Regions from separate parts of the Homo sapiens genome. Here region 2 is linked to region 1. The links come from fine-mapping of genetic effects on gene expression. Tissue or cell type: whole blood. Region 1 holds a variant in brackets; the other region holds the start of a gene. All regions are shown on one strand. Distances are between the middles of the regions.

Region 1 (8,107 bases):
ACATTTAAAAGAACATCACTTGCCAACAAGCACATGAAAAAGTACTCAACATCGTTAATCATAAGGCAAATGCAAAGGGAAACCATAATGAAACATCACTTTATATTCAGGATGGCCGCTATCACATAAACAGAAAATAACAAGTGTTGGCAAGGCTGTAGACAAATGGGAACCTTGGACTCAGGTGGTAGGAATGTAAAAATGGTGTAGCCATTATAGATAACAATATGGCAATTTCTCAGAAAATTGAAATAGAATTATCATATAATTCAGCAACCATTTCTGGATGTATATCCAAAAAGAACTGAAATCGGGGTCTTGAAGAGATATTTGTACACTGATGTTCACAGCAGCACTATTCGCAATAGACAAAATGTAGAAGCAACCCAAATTTCATCAACTGATGAATGGATAAACAAAACATGGGACATACTACAATAGAATATGAGTCAGCCTTAAAAAAAAGGAAATTCTAACACATGCTACAATACGGATGAACCTTGAGGACATTATGCTAAGTGAAATAAGCCAGTCACAGAAAGACAAATATGAGGTATAGTAGTCAAGCTCATGGAAGCAGAAAGTAGAATGGTGGTTGCCAGGGGCTGTGGGGTGAGGGGAATGGGAGTTGTTTAATGGGTAGAGTTTCCATCTTAAAAGATGAAAAACCTCTGGAGATTGGCTGCACAACGATGAAAACATACTTCACATTATTGAGCTATACACTTAGAAATGCTTAAGATGGTAAAATTTGTTATTTGAATTTTACCAGAACTAATTAATTTTTCAATCCTGCTCCTTCTGTATATTTTACAAATTAAAAAAAGAACATCACCAAATAAATGTTGATCAAATATTTAAATAATATTTAAATTGAATTTAAATTGAAAAGGAAGCCAAAATAGTAGACTGGTTGGGGTGCCTCAGTCCTGCCCTGTGCATGGCAGCCACAGTGCACTCAGAGAGAAGGCAGGACAGGGAAGCTGTGAAGCAGGAAGGGCCCCGAGGAAACAGAAGTTGTGAGGAGGAGAAGCAGCAGAAAGAAAGGAAACAAAGGAAAGTAACATCAATAGTTGATATGGTTTGGCTGTGTCCCCACCAAAATCTCATCTGGAATTGTAGCTTGCATAATGCTACATATGTGGGAGGGACCTGGTGGAAGGTAATTGAATCATGGGGGCGGTTCCCCCAATACTGTTCTCATGGCAGTGAATAAGTCTCATGAGATCTGATGGTTTTATAAGGGGAAACCCCTTTCGCTTGGTTCTCATTCTCTCTCTTGCCTGACACCATGTAAGACATGCCGTTTGCCTTCCACCATGTTTGTGAGGCCTCCCCAGCCACATGGAACTGTGAGTCCATTGAACCTTTTTTTCTTTGTAATTTACCCAGTCTCAGGTATGTCTTTATCAGCAATGTGAACATGGACTAATACAGTAGTTAAAAGCACTACAATCAGGAAGAAAAAGATAACCATGTCAATTAAAGTGCATTTGATCCCAACCTGAGTTCTGAACTACATTTTAATCTCTAGGAGGTCAGGGCCCTGGCAATTGAGATTTTTGCCTTCCTTCTCTCCCATGCCTGCTTCAGAAGTGCCCCCGTTTAAGGTAACCTGGAGCCTGTGCTTACAATCTAAGAGAGTGATGCTCCAGCTTTCAAGTACATACAGATCACCCAGGAGCTTATGAAAATGCAAATTCCCATTCAGTAGGTCTGTGGTGGGTCTGAGCTTCAGCATCTCACAAGCTCCCAGGTGAGCTGATGCTATGGGTCTGCAGTCCACACTTGCAGTAGTAGCAGGGAAATCCAACTAACCAGACAGAAAATTGGCAGTACACAAACAGACTGGCATGGAGAAGATGATCTTGTCAATAAAAACAACTTTATGGTGCTAGGAAATAAAATAAATAATCAAAGAGATATGTGAAATGACTCACATTATAAATTGTTGTTTAAAGTCAATATACAGGCCGGGCACAGTGCCTCACACCTGTAATCCCAGCACTTAGGGAAGCTGAAACAGGAGGATCATTTGAGGCCAGGAGTTCGAGACAAGTCTGGGCAATACAGTGAGATGCCATCTCTACAAAAAAATAAAAAATTAGCCAAGTGTGGTGACATGTGCCTGTAGTCCCAGCTACTTGGGAGGCTGAGGCAGGAAGAACACTTGAGCCCAGGAGGTCAAGGCTACAGTGAGCCATGATTGTCCCACTGCACTGCAGCCTGGGCAAGAGAATGACACCTTGTCTCAATCAAATGAAAATAAATAAATAAATTTGTATAATGATGGCCAGGGATGGTGGCTCACACCTGTAATCCCAATGCTTAGGGGGGCTGAGGCAGGAGGATCACTTGAGGCCAGGAATTTCAGATGAACCTGGGCAACAACATGAGACTTTGTCTCTACCAAAAATAAATTTTAAAAGTGTCTGGGCATGGTGGCACACACCTGTAGTCCCAGCTCTCTGGGGGGCTGAGGCGGGAGGATCACTTGAGCCCAGGAGTTCGAGACTGCAGTGAGCCATGATCATACCACTGCTCTCCAGCCTAGGTGACACAGCAAGACCCTGTCTCTTAAAGTAATAATAATAATAATTTTTTAAAAAGTCAATGTACTTTGAGGGTGAGATAGTTCCTTCCCAGGAAAAGGATGTGGGGAGGACATACAGATAAATTTAGTCTTCAAATGAGTCAAAGCACAAGCTTTGGAACCAGGTCACTGAGATTATGGGAAGAGAAGAGTGGGCAACTTGAATTTGAAGCAACAGAGTCTAAGTAAAAGGGGGTAAATGGATAAAAAAACAAAAATCATAATCTTTGGGATAGAAACTCTTGGAGATAGCAGGATTATATTTAATTATGTGTGTGTGTATACATACATATACATACACACGATTACATATATTTAATTATGTGTGTATACACACATATATATACACACACGCATAATTAAATATATATATAATCATCCTACTATCTCCAAGATACACATACACACCACACACACACACACACACACACACACACACACACACACACACACACACATATTAATAGCAGAACTGGCCAGAGGATAAAGAGAAAAAAGCAAGTAAGGGGAATGTAATATAAGAATACTGAATTTCTAAGATGCAGGCAAGTGATGCCTATAAAACCATTGACGTTGTTCAGTGAAGGGAGACGTTTGGTGAATTTAACTCACATTTGCACAAGTTTTGCTGTTTACAAAATGATTTCAAAATTACAACTTCATGTCAAGGTGCCTGTGAGGAAGGCAGGGCAGGGCTTATCCCAAGTTGAATAAGGGAGTCGGGGGCAGGGCAGTTCTTATTATCCCTTTTGCAAATGAGGAAACTGGGGCTCTGGGGTGTGTTCCAGTTCATGAAGTCAATTAATGACGGAACTTTTTTTTTTTTTTTGGAGGCAGTCTCACTCTGTCCCCTAGGTTGAAGTGCCATGGTATGATCTCTGCTCACTGCAACCTCCACCTTCTGGGTTCAAATGATTCTCGTGCCTCAGCCTCCCAAGTAGCTGGAATTACAGGTGTGTGCCACCACACCTGGATTATTTTTGTATTTTTAGTAGAGACGGGTTTTCGCCATTTTGGCCAGGCTGGTCTTAAACTCCTGACCTCAAGTGATCCACCTGCCTCGGCCTCCCAAGGTGCTGGGATTACAGGCATGATCCACCATGCCTGGCCAGAACATCTTTTCTTTTCCCTTATTCTGATTCTTCCTGTCATGTAAATAGATACATGATGCAAGTTGTTTTTTCACAGAATTCATGGGGGCAAAATGAGGCTATATGTTTTAAATTCTTTATGAAACAAATCAAGTATTATTAACAAAACCTCCTCACTGGCCCTGGCATGGGGCAGGCCTCCAGAGGAAACTCAGATAGCCAAAGTCACGGTTTATGAATTCAAGAAAGAGAAGTCAGCTGCTCTCTTCAGGGGGCCATAAATGAAAATTGGCCTTTATGCTTCCTGGGACTTGGTCATCAGATCCAAGAGGTCAGAAGGTTACTAGACACAGATCAGGGTTGAGAGCTGGCACCAGCCCAGGTCATAAGTACACACAGTACCCTCTTCCAATATTTAACAGGACACAGTGGCCTCTGAGTTAACTGCCTATGTCTTATCAATGCATGTGTAGTGCCAGTGTTGCCTGTGGTTTTATAGTTTGACTCTTTGGAACTTACACAGATCCAGGAAAATTATTTCAAACATTACATGAGGGATTTGGATATGTCTCTTTATGTCAATTTCCAGTTGGATATTCAGTTTGTTATATCGATGTTTCAAAGAGGTTCAGGAGGTGTTGCAGGGAACTTTTCCCAGCCCCCTTCAAATTGTGCCACCTAAAAAGCCCCTGTATGCAAGAGAGGTTCCCTACACATTCCTCCTGTCCTCCCCAGGTTGTGCCCAGGACACCAATATCTGAAGTGTGAGGGCAAGAGTCTGATGGCTCAACAAACAGAACGTGGCAACCACACTAAGAATTTGAATTAATGTTGTCCACGTTCCCTGAATTTATTGTTCTTTTTAATGGAAAAATCATGGGTCTGCATTCCAAGGGTCCTAGTGGCTATTGGATCATCTCTGCTTCTATCACCCTTGGGATGAGCTATATAATTAACTATGGAGATATGATAAGGAAATTAATCAATGCTTAACAGCATTTAATAAAACTCAATATTCATTCATGATTTAAAATTCTTGGTTAA[C/T]CAAGAGGAATAGAAGAGAGCTTCACTAACTTGATATGGAATAGTTACTAAACACTTTTACTAGCTATCTTATTGGAGAAGCATTAGAATCAATCTCATTAAAATAAAAAATAAAGATTTTATTGCTGGCACTATGATGGAGAAGTTGGTTACAGAAAATCCTCCTGGTATGCAGCACCTAGAAATACTAAATTTTTAAGAATGTCATTTTTCATGCAGGATTGAGCTGGTAGGAAAGTAAAGGAAGTCTCAAGAGGCCAAAATTTATAAGATTATGCTAAGCCAGAGGCATGAGAAAGGGAAGTCATGATCATCCTGGAGTTTTCTGGACTCCTGTAGGCCTGGGGCCTGGATTTTAATGGTAGAATAGGAGACAAAGCCTGGAGCCTAACCAGATCATAGACTATAAACTCAAGATCCCCTAAGGGTGACATCCTCAGTAGAAACCATGGAGGGAGACAGGTCTATCCCAGGCCTTCTCAGCCTTGGCTCTGGGTAGAGCAAAAAGAAAAGTCTCCTTTGAAATTCTTAACAACAGGCCTGCAATCAAGTAAGTTTGGGTCAGGATTCTCACTATTTGTGTGGCCAGTAGACCCCAAGCTTATGGTGGTCCCAGTTAGTTCTGTCCTCAGGTTCCTGGCAAAAGCAAAAATAAATCCTCTAGAGGAAAACAATTTCAATCTCAACAAGTCCCAAAGAGAAGTTTCCAAATGAGTTCATAGTACAAAATAAAAATGGAAATCAGGAACATGACAAGAATTCCTAGGACATCTAAGTGTTTGTAAAGAGTATCTCCTAGAATTGTGCAGTATAGAACCCACACAACTGTATGCATCACTTCTGAGACTATCTACTTTCATGGCTACTACTCAGCATTATGCTGAATGGCAAAGAAAAACCAATAAGACACAAAAAATTAAGGTTTGTAAAGATTGGAAAGGAAGGAGCAAAACTCTTACTATATATAGATGATATGTTTGTCTAACTAGAAATTCCAAAGGAATCAACTGATAAGCTTTTATAACTATTAAGAGAATTCCATAAGGTAACTAGGCAAAATATCAAAACACAAAATAGATTTTCTATTTATTGGGGGAAAAAATCAAGTAGAAAAGGTAAACATTATAGTGGAAATTGGCTCAGGAATAGGAAATAAATACAAAAGGACACAGAAATGGACATGTGTAAGTGGGAATTTAGTACATGATAGAGGTGATATTTCAAACAAATAGGAAAAAGATGGACTTTTCAATAAATAGTATTGAAATAATGTATTGCAATAAGTGCCAGGTGAATAAAGACTAACTTTTTAAATAAAAGTATTACAGGAAGGTGCACCAAAGTAGCTTCATAATTTTGGAAGTTGAGAAATCTTTTAAAAATCAGCCTCAAAGAGTAAAATCCAGAAAGAGGGAAACTAACAGATTCAACTACATCAAAATAACAACAACAATAATAGTAAAAATTTCTGTTGGCTAAAAAGTATGATTTAAACAAAGCTTAGAGAGAATATTACACACATATCAAATAATTTGCATTGAGAATAAATAAAAAACTCCTACAAAGAAGAAAAAAAATCCGACATAAAATAAGCTAAGGATATGAATAGGTAATTTAAGAAGAGAAATACAATGGCCAAGAGGGGTCCTATAAAAAGAATGCTCAACTTCATTAATAATCAGGGAAATTAAAATATTGAAATAATGGGTTGTCATTTGCACTAATTCAATGGAAAAAATAATAAAATACTGAATAAACAGCAAGCATTGTTTGGAGTGTGGAGGAACAGTAACTATCCTTCTCTGCTGGTGGGAGTACAGTCGGTTCGGGTACTGTGGAGGGCTGTTTGGCAGCCAAAAATTGAACCACATATATCCTGTGATGTGGCAATTCAACGTCTTAGTAGTTCCTCTAGTGCAATACGTGCACATGTCTAGAAGCAGACAAACACAGTGAGGTTCATTGGTAAGACTGAAAAATTGGAAAAGCTTAAATATCTATCGAAAAGAAAACGGCTAAATAAAAGAAGTGTACACTGTGAAATATGACGTAGCAGTTAAAATAAATGAAGTAGAGCTCTATACAGATATGGAAAGTCTCCAAGTCTTGCTATTGAGTGGAAAAACAGAATTAGAACAACATGGCAACAGATAGGTTTAATAGTCCATCTATGCATAGATGAACACACACACAGACACAATGGTCTGGCAGTAAATATATCACACTAAGTACTTTTGGGGAAACTGGAGATTAGGATTGACAGAATGGCCAAAGGTGAATTTAGGTTTATCTATACTGCTTTCTCATTTTCAAGGAGCATGAAATCATGTATTACTTTATAATTTAAAAAGTTATTACCTAAAAAACCTAGTCTAGTCAGTTTTGTGGTTGTCTTGGGTTTATTCCATAATAATTTTGGAACAAGTTGACAGCTTTTAGATCAGGAGTTGGCAAACTTTTTCTGTTAAAGGCCAGATAGTTAATATTTTAGGCTTTGTGGGCCATACTGTCTCTTTCGCAATTGGTCAATTTTGCTGACTCAATGAATCAGCTATAGCAGGCACTATTCCTCTCCCACATGGCCTCTAATGATATGGCCAGAGTTGAAAGGATGTTGTAGGGCAAAAACAGCCATATACAATACATAACGAATGGGCATGGCTGTGTTCCAATAAAGCTTCATTTATAAAAACAGCTGGTGGGCCAGAGTTAGCCTGTGAGCCATAGTTTGTCAACCCCAGGTTTAGACTTTTATGACATAACTAAAATATTTTTAAAGCGTATTTGTGTACCACAAAATACTTTTTCCCATTAACCAACTGATTAAATAAGCCTCTGAGGCCTCCCTTAGCATCCTTTCAACTCTGACCATATCATTAGAGGCCATGTGGGAGAGGAATAGTGCCTGCTATAGCTGATTCATTGAGTCAAGACTCAGTGGCCTCAGAGGTGTCTGTTGACCTGTCCTAGATATGGAGTGGCCTTAAAGCAGTGCCTCTGGCCATAGCTTCAGCCGAGCTGGGCTGTAAAGTGGAGAGAAGAAGGACCTGGTGGCACTGACCACATGCAGGCAAGACTCGGTTCTGTGGGACAAGGTGCCCTTTCAATAGTAGAGGTAGAAAACTCACTGGTTTGAAGCCAACTCAGCCGCAGCACTGTGCAGGGGTATGGCAGGTGCTCTGAGGGACCCCTCCTTGAAGTGGTGAGTCCTGGTGACTGTCATGCTGCTGTCCTTGGCCTCAGGGGGCTGCCAGCACTAACCCAGCAGGCCAAAAGGAATCAGGACTGAGTTGATCCCAGTTCCCATAGTCCCCAGCTCCCACAGTCCTTGGAGGTGGTATTTCCTGGGTCCAGGGACTCCAGCCCTGTAACAGGGAGC
Region 2 (8,107 bases), 210 kb after region 1:
AGGTTTTGGGACAAAACTGTTCCACCACAGATCATCAGACATTAGATTCTCATAAGAAGCCCACAATCTAGATCCCTCGCATGTGCAGTTCCCAACAGGGTTCAGGCTCCTATGAGAATCTAATGCGCCACTGATCTGATGGAGGCAGAGCTCAGGTGATGATGCTCCTTCGCCCATCACTCACTTCCTGCTGTGTGCTCCAGTTCCTAACAAGCCACGGATCAGTACCTGTCTCTAGAAGAGGGATTGGCTACCCCATTCTAGAGACAGGGTCTCCGTATATTGCTCAGGCTTGTCTTGAACTCCTGGGTTCAAGTGATTCTCTCACCTTGGCCTCCCAAAGAGCTGGAATTACAGGTATGAGCCACCACCATGGCCGTTATTTCTATTTTTATCACATTTACAAACACTATTGTCTCTGTTATTTAAATCTCCATCAACATTCTTAATGATTTCCTCAAGGCTGTTTTATTCTTTGCCCTCCTTGCACCTCCCACCGGCTGTGCTCACCTGGTGCCCGCCCATCCATGTCTTCCATGCAGTCTTGGTAATGCTTAGCAAGGAGGTAATACAGTTGAGTCAACTTAGGGGCTTTCCCAGCTTCCACAAGAGCTTCTGCTGTGGCCAAGTGCATCACTGTGTCGTCACTAACTCTCCACCTTCCCACGTCTAGGGCATCCAAGCCGCCCAGCTGGGCCAACTGCCGGTGTATCTTCTCCCCATCCTGGAGGAACTCCCACTTCCCATTGTAGTACCCCAGGGCATCTCCAGCTGCACTCAGCACCATAGCAGCCACATACTTCTCCATCAGTCCCTCACAATTGCTGGGCTCTGGAGAGGGTGTCTTTGTGGGGAAATTAAGACAAAGGAAATAGGATGAGGAGCAAGAAGAATCAGAAAAAACAACGACTCTAGCTATGTTTTATTGAGCACTCACTACTTGCAGACATTGTATCAGTGGCATCTCATGTAATCCTCATCACTGCTCTATGAGGAATATAAAGCCCATTTTATGTATGAACAAATGGAGGACCATGGAGATAATGCAGTTTGAGAAATGTTCAGTGACTTGTCTCAGGTCACAGAGCCAATAAGTGGCAGGGCTGGGATCCCAACATAGGTCCATCTGACTCCAAAGTCTATCATCATAACTACAACTGTATCTCTTGCCTCTTGGTGAGTAGTAAGCCCACTAAATTCTGCAAGTCAAACCCAGCTCATCATTTGCTCTTCTTAGCTGGGATTTGGCCTTAGAAGTGCAAGGCTTTACACTTCCTATTAGTGTCACAATGTGTAGTTCACAAAGCACCTGCACATTCATTGTCTCACTAATAGGGAGGGATTACAGTATGCATTTCACAGATAAGAAAATGAAGGCTCAGATAAGCTAAATTCACAAAACAAGAGGAGTGGAAGTACTGGAACCCAAATCTGATTCCAGCCAAGCCAGGATGCTTGGTATCACACCACTCAGCCTCAGTCCAGATCTTCTTACCTTGGGCAACCTCTTGGTGCCTCAGCCTCCACATTTATAAAATGGCACTGATTTTAAAAAGTAACAACCTCCTGGATTTGTTGTTAGGAATAAATAAATTAAATTTCATAAAGTTGGCTGGACGCGGTGGCTCACGCCTGTAATCTCAGCACTTTGGGAGGCCGAGGTGGGTGGCTCATCTGAGGTCAGGAGATCGAGACCAGCCTGGCCAACAGGGTGAAACCCCATCTCTACTAAAAATACAAAAATTAGCCGGGTATGGTGGTGCATGCCTGTAGTCCCAGCTACTCAGGAGGCTGAGGCAGGAGAATCGCTTGAACCCAGGAGGCAGAGGTTGCAGTGAGCCGAGATTGTGCCACTGCACTCCAGCCTGGGCGACAGACCAAGACTCTGTCTCAAAAAAAAAAAAAAAAAAAAAGTTCTTAGAGTGCTTGGCACATAGTAAGCTTGATTTTTGACATATTTGTATTATTCATATACAACCAGGGAAAATGGGTGTTCTGTTTTAGAACTAGAACATTTTCTCCCCACAACCTTTCCTTCGACAGTAATGTTTAAATATTGTTTCTCTTAGAAATGATCAGCTTCTAGAGAATTCGAATCTCTATTAATAATATACCCACCATGAATGAAATCCCTGGTAAAGCGCTGGCTTCCCTGTTGGTGCATTTCCTAAGAACCCCCCTCTTTCAGCCAATTCCTCAGGGTTCCCTTCTCCCTGTGGCTTTCAGGTCAAAGCCCTCCATCCCATCCAGGCCAATACTTTTATAAGGGTCTGGCAGACTAGCTCATTCTCCCCTCAGGTGAAACTTTTCCCTCCCCTCCACTTATCTAAACCCTATTTACCCAAGGTCTAGTTCAAGTCAGGAGGCTTCCAGAAGTGCTTCTGCAGCTGCACTGCTGTTGGCCATGGAATGCAGGCTGGAGAGCCCCTGGAGAAGGAGTAAACGACGAAGATGGATGCGTTCCACTACCCAGTTACTGGTAATGCTGAGTTTCTGAGCTCACAAAGGATATTTGTAAATGTTATTTACATAGTTTATTATTTACAGTGAAGCCTAGGCACTGAGATTCTGGGCTACTAGACCTGACAGACACCCGGGACAGCGGTTTGCCCATCTGTAAACTGGAGGGGGAAGTGGGGAGGTATAGGCTCTCGGAAGTTCCGTCCTGCGCTGCGATTTTCAGACACTAGGCCAAGACACTCTGCTTCTTGGCCTCGGAGGACTAACTTTAACCCCCCATACCCTCCCTCTCAATGTCCTCATTGTCCTTTCCGTAATTCCTTCTGGCTCCACCCTAATGTGTGCTTCTGTGAATTGCAAGCTGGGATGGGGGAAGAAGACCGGCATCTTTTTTCGGTTGTAAATTCCCTTTAACGTTCGCTTTCAGAACGCTGTAATTACTTAACTCCTCTGAACTTTCACGGGTCACATTCTCGTACCCGAACTATACATTCAGAACTAAGATCTGATCAGCTGCTTCCGGGCCATGCCCGGCTTTGGAAAGAAACGGGGCGGTTGACACGCTCCCACGATTTGCAAGACTGGGAATCCTCATGGTCGGCCACACTCGGAGAGCGCCAGGGGCGGGGGAGGGGAGCGCGGGGCCGAGGGCCGGGATCGCGATACCTGCTGTAGCCTGGACTGGAACGCGCGAGCGACGGGCGTGGCGCGGGCTCCCGGGGCCGGGGAAGAGGCCTTGGCTGCTGCGGGTGGACGAGGGCGCGGGTTGGGGCGGAGCCGGGTCACCGGGTTCCGGGACTGTCCCCAGATAAGCAGGGTGGCGGCGAGGGCCCCCGCACCTGCGCTTGGCCGCGCTGAGTGAGCTAATCTTGGAGCCTCCAAGGCGGCTTCCTGGCACCGCCGCGCCCTTCTGCACCCAAGCGAGAGTGGACGGGACCTCCGTCGCCCGCCCCAAATGCTCTGAAGAGCCCGGAGCCTGGTGCCCGGAATGTGGCGGCACCGGAAAGCCGGCTCTCGCCTGGCTGTGGTCAGTGACTCCCGTGTGGCCCCGGCTGACGCCTTCGCCCGTGCTCACGTCCGACTTTGTAGGACTGTAGTGGACCGGGTGTGCCCAGATGCTTGAAGAGCGTACTGAGTGTGCCGCCCTTGCCAGGGTTCTGGGCCCTCACGCATAAAGTGGGATAATAATATCTGCCTCTTAGAATGGTTGTTAAGGATTCAGTTAGTTAATTTTAACTAGTCATTTATTTGGCAGCAGCGTAGAATTCTTGTATCCTGATCGTAAATAAAAGCAAAGAAAAACGAAGAGTATTTTTGTCTAAATACATTAATCATGTCACTTTTAAAGCAAATCAGAATCACCATATGCAAATATTCTATATATTTCTCCAAAGTTTTAAATTTGCTATGCCTATTTTCTTGCTGTAATGACTAGCCTTGGTCTGAGAGCTTTTTAAAAAATTGATATATAATTTATATATAATGAAATGTCCTTACACCATAATCGAGATATGAAATATTTCCATCACTTTAAAACATTCTCTTGTGGCCTTCCCAGTGAATAACCATCTCCATCTCCAACTCTAGCCTAAGTGACTTTTGAGTGTTTACAAAAATCAAGTTCACCAATAAGGGAGGCAGAGATCACCTCCAACCCCCTACACCCTCTAGCTCTTAGTGAGCTAATCAGCTGCATCTAGAAGCCAAATTGACACTAGGCAGATTAACAAGAGAAAAGTATACAAATTTTATTAATTTTACATGTACATGGGGATGTTAAGAGACTGAATCCTGAAGAAAGTGTCCAAAGCAAGATGCTTTTATACTTTTTAGAAAAAGAGTGATAAATTTAAGAAGAAGTGACAGGACAAAGAAAATCCGGCTAGGGTGGTAAAAAATTTCTAGGGGAGCCCCTAGGAGATATATGGGGGGTGGGGTGTAAAACAGGTGGAAGATAATGGTTACTTTGCAAGAATGTTTACTCCAGTCCAAATGCCACCTCCAGTTCCAAATCTCTGGTGATGAGAGCTATTTTCTCGCTCTGGCGTGGAGAACATACCTCTCCTAGAGGAATCTTTATTGCTGGCTGCATGCAGGAAGAGACAGCTCAGCTCCTGTCAGGGAACCAGGCTCATTTGTCTTTCACACAGTATGCCAATCACTGAGGCGCACAAGTTTTGCAGTAGAGAAAGGGTGTATTCACAAGGCAGCCAAGACAGGAGACTGGAGAACAGGCCTCAAATGTGCCTTTCCAAAGATGGAATTTTAGGAGTGCTTATGGGATAGGGGAGGAAGGTGGTCCAAGGTTCAGAGAAAGATGAGGTAAGGAAAAGTGAGGCAATCGGTAATCTGAGCAAGCATAGTCAATCTTCATGGCTGTTCATAGAACACATGTTCACAAAATCGTGACGTTAGCATGATCTGAGAGTGGAGTTTTGGGCCTTCTGATGTCAAAAGGTCACCCATTGGACACTCACGCAGGCCAAGATGAAGGGCTGGTGGCTTGAACTGGACAAGAACTGACTCTAAGTTCCTGAAAAATAACTTAAGCAATATTTTCCATGGTGTCCTATCAGAGAAGTTATCTATAAGGAGGCAAGTGGAATTTAGTTATGTATCGTCTAGCTACATGACTTTTAGCTATGCAGGTTTTAAAATCGACTAGAAGCAAGTGACCAAAAGCAAGCAAGGCAAATTAAGTGTCAGGCCTAATCAGGTCAGCCCTCAGTTTTACCCTTTCTGAAACTATAATTTCTCTAATGTTTTCAACTCAAAGTAATCAATATATTATATGGCATATTTGGGGATGGCACATCCTTCATTCTTTCAACTGTCAAAGATTTTCAGCCTCTGAGGATGCAGTCAAAGCAAGTTCTGTAGTAAGAGACATTTTGAATAATAAGCATCCCGATAAAACTCAACACAGTTTCAGCTTAAGATGTCTGCTGAGGATATTGTTCATATTATGTAGTGATCTTTCTGTGAGAATCCATGGGAAAGGGTGATTTTTTGTTTTCGTTTTTGACTTAAATGTAAAGAATAACTGGGGCTGGGCACAGTGGTTCATACCTGTAATCCCAGTACTTTGGGAGGCCAAGGGGGACAGATTGCTTGAGACCAGGAGTTCGAGACCAGCCTGGGCAACATGGTGAAACCTGTTCTCTACAAAAAATACAAAAATTATCCAGGCATGCGCCTGTGGTCTGAGCTACTCAGGAGGCTGAGGTGGGAGGACTGCTTGAGCCCAGGAAGCAGAGGTTGCAGTGAGCTGAGATTGTGCCACTGCACTCCAGCCTGGACGACAGAGCAAGACCCTGTCTCAAAACACAAACAAACAAACAAAAACAAACAGAAAAACTGGGGTTGTTAGCAATTAGTTTGCTTTGAACTTTATGGTGCCTATGAACTTTGTGACCATTAGCATAGACTCCCGACACATCCACGCTATCTGGTTTCAAACCCTTGTAACAACACTTGGGGGCCAGGCACGGTGGCTCACGCCTGTAATCCCAGCACTTTGGGAGGCCAAGGCAGGTGGATCATGAGGTCAGGAGTTCGAGACCAGCCTGACCAACATGGTGAAACCCTGTCTCTACTAAAAATAAAAAATTAGCCGGGCATGGTGGTGGGTGCCTGTAATCCCAGCTACTCGGGAGGCCAAGGCAGGAGAATTGCTTGAACCCAGGAGGCGGAGGTTGCAGTGAGCTGAGATCGTGCCACTGCACTCCAACCTGGGCGACAGAGTGAGACTCCATCTCAAAACAAAACAAACAAACAAAAAACACTAGCTTGAGTAAGTGATTTTAGACAAGTCACTTCATCTTGCTAAGCTTCACTTTCTGTTATTAAGTAGGAAAAATAATAGTACATATTTCATAAAGTTGGTTTGAAGATTGCATGAAATAATTAATTGAAAAATTTTAGCACAGTGCTTATCAATGTAGTAGTCATGCAAGAAAAAATTACTACCAGGTCAGATATCTCTCTGTATTCCCAGTTCTCATCTCCATCACACACATGAGCCATTCTACCTTCTTTTCACATTAGTTAACACCTACTGACATCCTTTCTCTTCTGTCAAAATTAGAAAATGTTTTTGGGCATCAAGGACATTGTCCTATAAACCAAAAGGATAATTTATCAGTTAGCATGTTTCCAGCTCCAAATAACGGCAAATAACCATCACTCTTCCCCACCCCCAAAACACCACATACTCACTGGGCTTAAATAATAATGGCACTTATTATCTTATGTAACAAAATGTCTAAAGGTAAGAAGTCCCAGGGTTAATTTAGCAACTGTATACTATCATCAAAGAAAGACCCTGTTCTTCTTATCTTTCTGACCTACTATCTTCAGTTATTTTTATCCCCAGACTGACGTTTTTAATTGGCACAAGATCATATTTTCCCCATTTTAATTTATTTTATCAAATGTATATAGAGGTCTTATCCTTCGGTTTGTTTTTGTTTAAACCATTTTGCTATTTTGTGTCTGCTAGCGAGCCCAAGAGGCGTTGCCTATTAACCATTTACTGTTAATTTCTTCGAAAATTTTTGTTTAGCTCTGATTATTTAACTAGGCAGTCAAGATAATGTGTATGCATAATAACACATTGCAGTTACAGTTATAGACAGTGTCCAGTGGAAAAAGAGAGTGTTTCTTCTTTCAAGATGAAGAAACTATTCTCAAAGATCCTCCAGAAGTCTAAACCAATTCCTGGCAGGCAGGCTGGATTATGATGTTTCCCTTAGATCAAGGATAGACACATCTTCCCTGAGAGGTAGAGGTAGGTTCTTTTACAAAAATCAGGGTTTGTTTGCAAAGGAAACAGTGAATGTTGTTCTGCCAAGAAGAACAAATAGTTACTTGGCATCTTACTAGGTGCTAGGCATTAGTATAGGTCCTGGAAAGACAAATATATTGCATAGTTGGTTCCTTGCTCTTAGTTTTATTGAGGAAGACACATCATAGGCATCTTCATTACTCACCAATACAGAATCAATTGCTATGCTGAGGCTGTTGCTGAGAAATAAACTTGTAGCCCTCGGACCTGATCTTAAGATATTTCAGACACTTCATCTATAAGGTCGGAACAATGACACTGTTCTTAACAAACTGGTCACTTACAAGAATGATCTTTATACATTCTTCAGACATTGAATACCTGCTGTGTAAGTATATGCTAGGCCCTGACAGCCCCTGCTCTTCTAGAGCACCCAAGTGATCTCATTTTTCGGCTGCTAACATATTTTTAAAATTACCAAAAAAGTGTTTATATGTTTTCTTAAATCACGTTATTGAGATATGACTGAGATACAAAAAGCTGTACATATTTCGGGTATACAACTTGATGAGTTTGAAGATAAGTAACCAAAAGTAGCTGCTCACATATCCTGTGTTGTCAATTCAATTCAAGAAGATTTAGAGAGCATCTGTGATGGCTAATTTTGTCAGCCTAGCTAGGCCACAGTGCCCAGATATTTGGTCAAACATTGTTCTAGATGTTTCTGTGCAGGTATTTTTTAAGATGAGATTCACATCTAAATCAGTAGCCTTTGAGTAAAGCAGATTACTCTCCCTAATGTGGATGAGCCTCATTCCAATCAGTTGAAAGCCTTAATAGAAAAAAGACTCGCCTCCCCCA

What was found. PIP is the estimated chance that this variant, and not a neighbour inherited with it, causes the effect.
Region 2: ADPRH starts here. The variant in region 1 is fine-mapped to the expression of ADPRH in whole blood (INTERVAL, PIP 0.96).

Annotation. Positions count from the first base shown.
Region 1 is chr3:119,782,602-119,790,708 of GRCh38, reverse strand. All of the region lies in intron 1 of NR1I2 (nuclear receptor subfamily 1 group I member 2), which reads right to left. Among named protein-coding and RNA genes, the nearest start is that of NR1I2, 4.6 kb to the right of the region's middle. The variant C/T (reference allele first, on the strand shown) is at 4,729.
Region 2 is chr3:119,574,871-119,582,977 of GRCh38, reverse strand. It overlaps ADPRH (ADP-ribosylarginine hydrolase), which reads right to left and starts at 3,486. Exons shown (of 5, transcript NM_001125.4): 1 at 3,127-3,486; 2 at 2,342-2,427; 3 at 511-844. The coding sequence starts at 808. RefSeq lists enhancers at 570-869, 33-1,232, 2,337-2,556, 3,497-3,596, 3,381-3,882 and a silencer at 3,177-3,316.